Linked DNA regions of Homo sapiens: region 1 is linked to region 2. The links come from fine-mapping of genetic effects on gene expression. A gene starts in region 2. The other region holds a variant in brackets. All regions are shown on one strand. Distances are from middle to middle. Region 1 overlaps LGR5 (leucine rich repeat containing G protein-coupled receptor 5). Region 2 holds the start of THAP2 (THAP domain containing 2).

Region 1 (2,500 bases), 87 kb after region 2:
CTGGCTCTGACAAGCTCTAGGCATGGAGAACACAGAGGCAGGTAATCTGTGCATATCCAGCTTCTTCAACAAAACCAACTTTTAAAATTAACTAGATGGTCCTCAATTATTAAGAGACATACCATAAACAAGTTGTGGAATACTCACAGCTTTATTAGGGATGGCAAAGTGGAAAATGCATTGGGGTGAATAATAGCAATTTTGTTCCAAGCCAAATTCCTATTGTAAAAAAAGGCAAATGAGAGAATTATATAGAATAAAGAACATGTGAAGTTTTATCATATGCATTTAGTCTTCTACCAAAATTAATTTAATTTCCATTCAGATCAGAAACAATTAACTTATCAAACTGCCCTTCAGATTATCATATTAGTGGTATAAAATGACTAATGAGAGAACTTTAAATCAAGCTTGTTAAAACCAATCAAGGAAACATCGTTCAGGTGGATATTTTGGTTTTACTCTTGCTAAAAGGTTGACTTTAACATGGTTGTAAAATTTTATTAGGGCCTTTCTAAAATGAGTGGTTGTAGCACTGTGGGAAGGGACAGAAACTTCTGAGTCTCTTCTTCTGACAAGTAAGTGTTAAATTATAAAATGTCCTTGGATATGTAATGAAACTCAAAAAAATTTGGGCACATCACTCATATATGTTAGGCCTTGAAAGAAACACAAAGATGCTTTCAAGAAAATTTCCAGGAAGGATACTGACAAGTAAATTATTAGCCAGGATATGAATAAAATAGGGGCCAACATATGTTAGAAATAAAATTCTTTGATAGTAAAGAAAAAGTACAGTTTATGGGGAAATAAAATTCACTTCCCATGGACAAGTAATGAACTGCAGATAATTAAGTAGGAGTAAAGCATTTTGCAAAAACTTCTGTAGATAATTTATCAGGAATAAGAACTACATTTTTAAAAAGGAAGGATGAATTTAAGATTTTTAATTTTTGTAAATGACTAACAATGGTAACTAAGATGTAGGCATTTGAGAGAACTGAAAGTAAACAAAGTCAACTTTTCTTAAGTGTAGAAAAGTTTATGATATTGGGCTCCAGGGTTACCTTAATAAATGGTATTCACAGAATATTTACATTCTCATTTGAAAGGTTCCTTAGGGACCTGTCCTCCTTTCCTGGAGGAAACTGGAAGTCTTTTCCTTGATCCCAGAACAGAAGAAAATTGCAGCTAACAAGGGGAGGAAACGTATGGAAGGTAGAAAAGCTACAAATGGC[G/A]GCTGGGCTTTGGGTAATTGAGTGAGAAGACTGTCTTCTGTTGAGCTGCTCAAGAAATACGTGTCACTGAGGTGAGCAAGTAATACCATCTGTCAGAGTCTTTTTGGCAGCTTTAAGTAGATCATGGTGCCCTGGGAGAGCTTCACAGAGCAGAATATCTGGAATGTAGGCCAAGTCCTGCCATGGTGCTTAGAGTGATTTGGCTGGGGTTTAAGTAAATATGTGAGAATTTATATGTTCAAAGGCCTGTAATTCCTTTTCAATTCATGAGCCCGTGCGCTGGAATCCTCCCAGCAGCCCCAGAGGAGTCATTTTCTGCTTTGTGCCTGGGGCTGATCCTGCAGGCTGCATCCCCAGAGCTCCCTAATGGCCTCAGTTGTTTTCTCAGGAGAAGCCCCAGAAGGAAAGGGAGGTCAGGGCCCTCATGGTCTTCTCTTCCCTGTTTTGGAATCATGTCTTTCATGGCAGCTACAGACTTCTCAAGGGCTGCAACACTTCTCCATGCTTAAGCTCTTTCTTTGTCCTGGAAACATCATTTCCTCCCTGTGACTCTAGCCCCAGATGTTACTGGTTTCTGCACACCCATCCTTTGCTTGCTCCCTGCCAACACCTATGTAAGTGTCTTTTCATTTGAACCATCTTTTAAAAAAATTTAATTTAATTTTAAGTTCCAGGATACACGTGCAGGACATGCAGGTTTGTTACATAGGTAAACATGTGCCATGGTAGGTTTGCTGCACCTATCAACCCATCACCTAGGTATTAAGCCCTGCATGCATTAACTATTTATCCTGATGCTTTCCCTCCCCCTGCCACCCTGATAGGCCCTGGTGTGTGGTATCTCTCTCCCTGTGTCCATGTGTTCTTATTGTTCAGCTCCCACTTATAAGTGAGAACATGCAGTGTTTGGTTTTCTGTTCCTGTGTTAGTTTGCTGAGAATAATGGCTTCCAGCTCCACCCATGTGCCTGTAAAGGACATGATCTTATCCCTTCTTATGGCTGCGTAGTATTCCATGGTGTATATATACCACATTTTCTTTATCCAGTCTATCATTGGTGGGCATTTGGGTTGATTCCATGTCTTTGCTATTGTGAATAGTGCTGCAATGAACATATGTGTGCATGTATCTTTATAATAGAATGATACACACACACACACACACACACACACACACACACACATATATATTTTTTGAGATGGAGTCTCACTCTGTCGCCCAGGTTGGAGGGCGGTAGTGCGATCTCAGCTCACTGCAAACCC
Region 2 (3,025 bases):
ACTGCAGCCAGAGGACTTTTCAATATGCAAATCTAATCGTGCCATTCTTTTTTAAACCCTCCATGGTTTCTCAAGTACTCTTAGGATAAAACAGAAAATACTTAAGTAGCACACAGGACCCAATCTGTCATCCTTTGGTCTCATTTGAAATGTCACATCCTTTGAAAAAGTGTTCTTTGACTTTCCAAGACTAAGTTAGGTCTCTGAATGTTTCTTCTGTGGCACTTAATTATTTATGTCTTTCTCCACCATTAAATTCTAAATTCCAGGAGGGTTAGAACTTTCTGGATCCTTAGCACAATGTCAGGTAATTAGGAACTCCGTACATATTTGATGGATGAATGAACAAAGCACTACATATGCATGAACTAGTTTAAAAACAGAAACATCACAAGATTTTTTTTAAGTGGCAGCTTTTAATAAAAGTACAGTTCGTAATAGGTAGGGAAAAAGGTCAAGGATATAATTTCTACATACTAACATATACGTTGTTAGGTATATAAAATATATAAAATCAGGACTGGTGTCACTTAACTTTTTAATGTGTCTTTTCTTCGGGCACGTGGCAGGCACTTGCAGAGAAGGTAAACATTTACAGAGTACCTGTTATTTTCCAGGCATTGTTCAAAGTGCTTTCAAGAGTTCTGGTTTGACAGAACTAAAGAATTTTGATTTTTCTTCCAGCAAACAAAAGAAAACCTAGGTTCTTTTTATTACTCTATTCTAGTAAGAACAGAAAGGTTATCTTTTGCACTTTAATTAACATCGCTTAATTCCATGGCTATCAAAGATGACTCAATTCCTCCGCAGAATTACTATGTGACTATTAGAAATCTAAATGCCTCCCATGTCAATTCATCTAGTGAGAATTTCCTAATTTTAACGGGAACACAGCAGGCTTTTACGGTGATTGCTGATTGGGAAGATCTCTTTCTCCCTTACGGCGTCATTCATGTCAAGGCCCGGTCTAACAGAGGAATAAAACAGTAGAAAATTACGATATCCTCCTGTTACTTTTTTTTACTAAGGGGTAATGACCAAACAGTACTTGGATTTCTTTTAGAAAATGAGTAAAGCTTCCCCGAAAGCAGAGAACAATTGGGCAGATTTGAGAAACACAAAGGACATACGATGCTTCCCTGCTACCAGCTGGGAAAGTTATTAGAATTAGCAGAATCCTCCTGTTCCTTCCACACAAGCGATAGCCACAATAGGAACTCCAGTTTCCGTCACCCCCACTCCCTGCCCAGGTTACCTGTGGAAGCTGATGTTAATGTGCTTGTTGTAGGTAGTGGCACAGCCCGCCGCAGCGCAATTGGTCGGCATTTCCCTTTCCCACTCATTCAGCGCCCTTAGGTCTCTACTGAGGCGCTGGCTGCTAAGCTTTCTTCTGGCAGAGGCTGGACAATCGAGGCAGGCGTGCCTTAATCGTGAGAGCTTAGTCGTGAGAGCGGAGTGGGAAGAAGGGGTGTGTATGTGGGGGCGGAGGCGAAGGACGGTCAGCCTTCCCTTTCTCTTTATTAATATGGCCGACTAGAGCCCACAGAACTGGCCCTCCTGGAGCTCTAGTCGCCTTCGCTTGACTTCACCAACATGGCGGACACAACCCGTTCTTTCTCCCCGCCCCCAAGAGGGAGCGGATCTACTGCGTTTCTTTGGCAGCGGTCCTCAGAGCAATTAAAAGGAAGAGGTGTTTTCCCCTCCGATTACTATAAATTACAAGAGTTTTACAATAAAACTCTCTCAAGGCTGCAACAGCAGCTCCACCTACTTCTGCATGCACCCAACTGTACCAAGCCAGACCCTGCGGTGGGTGTGACCCTAGGACCGGAAGAGTAAACCCGAAGAAAGACGAAAGACTACAAATCCTAGTGAGTATCGAGTTGGTCTTATTATCGCGTGAACTGGGAGCCTTTGTTTCCTGCGTGTCGCAGGAAGTGACGTTTCGGGTACAGCCGCTACCAGAGTCCCTTTCTCGCGAGGCGGAAGAACCCCGATCGCTGAGGAGCAAGGGGGCGCTAGGAAAGGGAACTGGGTTGCGACGGTCCGGCGAGAGAGAGCTGGGGTGCTGGGGTGCGGGGAAGTTGGGGAGCAGAGGCCGCTTGGTGTCCGAGTAGGGTAAGACCGCACCGACCCAGTCCGTTAGGAAAGAAGGGAAACGAGGCAATTGTCGGGCGGATCCCCGGACGGAGGGCTAAGGTTGTGTGGAAGGCGCTGCTCCCCGGATGGCGACCGCAGATACTCCGGCCCCGGCCTCCAGTGGCCTCTCGCCGAAGGAAGAAGGGGAGCTTGAAGATGGGGAAATCAGTGACGACGATAATAACAGCCAGATACGGAGTCGGAGCAGCAGCAGCAGCAGCGGCGGCGGGCTGTTACCCTATCCGCGGCGAAGGCCTCCTCACTCGGCCCGGGGCGGTGGATCTGGCGGAGGCGGTGGCTCTTCCTCGTCATCGTCCTCTTCTCAGCAGCAGCTGAGGAATTTCTCACGCTCGCGGCACGCGTCTGAGCGGGGCCACCTCAGGGGACCCAGCAGCTACCGACCCAAAGAACCGTTCCGGTCTCATCCGCCTTCTGTACGGATGCCTTCGAGCTCACTGTCCGAAAGCAGTCCCCGGCCGTCTTTCTGGGAGCGGAGCCACCTCGCCTTGGACCGTTTCCGCTTTCGAGGCAGGCCTTACCGGGGTGGGAGTCGCTGGAGTCGGGGGCGAGGAGTGGGTGAGCGAGGAGGCAAGCCGGGGTGCAGACCTCCTCTGGGAGGAGGAGCAGGATCCGGGTTCAGCAGCAGTCAGAGCTGGCGAGAGCCCTCTCCACCTCGGAAGAGCTGTATCCTTAACGTGGCGGTCGGCGCTGGGTGTGTCACTAAAGTTCCCTTTAGCGTCATTACTAGGTCTGTGAGACGAGTGTAACTTTGAATCATCAGAACCGCTTATTTCTCCCTGTGTCAGTATACTTTAAGTTGTTCTTTGGTAATTCCCCATGTGTCACACTATAGCGTTATTCTTAAGACTGCTTCATTGGGTATATT

What was found. PIP is the estimated chance that this variant, and not a neighbour inherited with it, causes the effect.
Region 1: its variant is the best candidate, but not a certain one, in a credible set for the expression of THAP2 in whole blood (INTERVAL, PIP 0.66).

What each region holds. Positions count from the first base shown.
Region 1 is chr12:71,575,644-71,578,143 of GRCh38, reverse strand. It overlaps LGR5 (leucine rich repeat containing G protein-coupled receptor 5), which reads right to left. Exons shown (of 18, transcript NM_003667.4): 14 at 148-219. It overlaps LOC124902963 (a long non-coding RNA gene), which reads left to right. Exons shown (of 3, transcript XR_007063365.1): 3 at 1,113-1,201. Among named protein-coding and RNA genes, the nearest start is that of ZFC3H1, 87 kb to the left of the region's middle. The variant G/A (reference allele first, on the strand shown) is at 1,239.
Region 2 is chr12:71,662,811-71,665,835 of GRCh38, reverse strand. It overlaps THAP2 (THAP domain containing 2), which reads right to left and starts at 1,535. Exons shown (of 3, transcript NM_031435.4): 1 at 1,256-1,535. The coding sequence starts at 1,326. ZFC3H1 (zinc finger C3H1-type containing) reads left to right here and starts at 1,988. Exons shown (of 35, transcript NM_144982.5): 1 at 1,988-2,823. The coding sequence starts at 2,226. RefSeq lists enhancers at 1,526-1,885, 1,335-1,893, 2,246-2,365.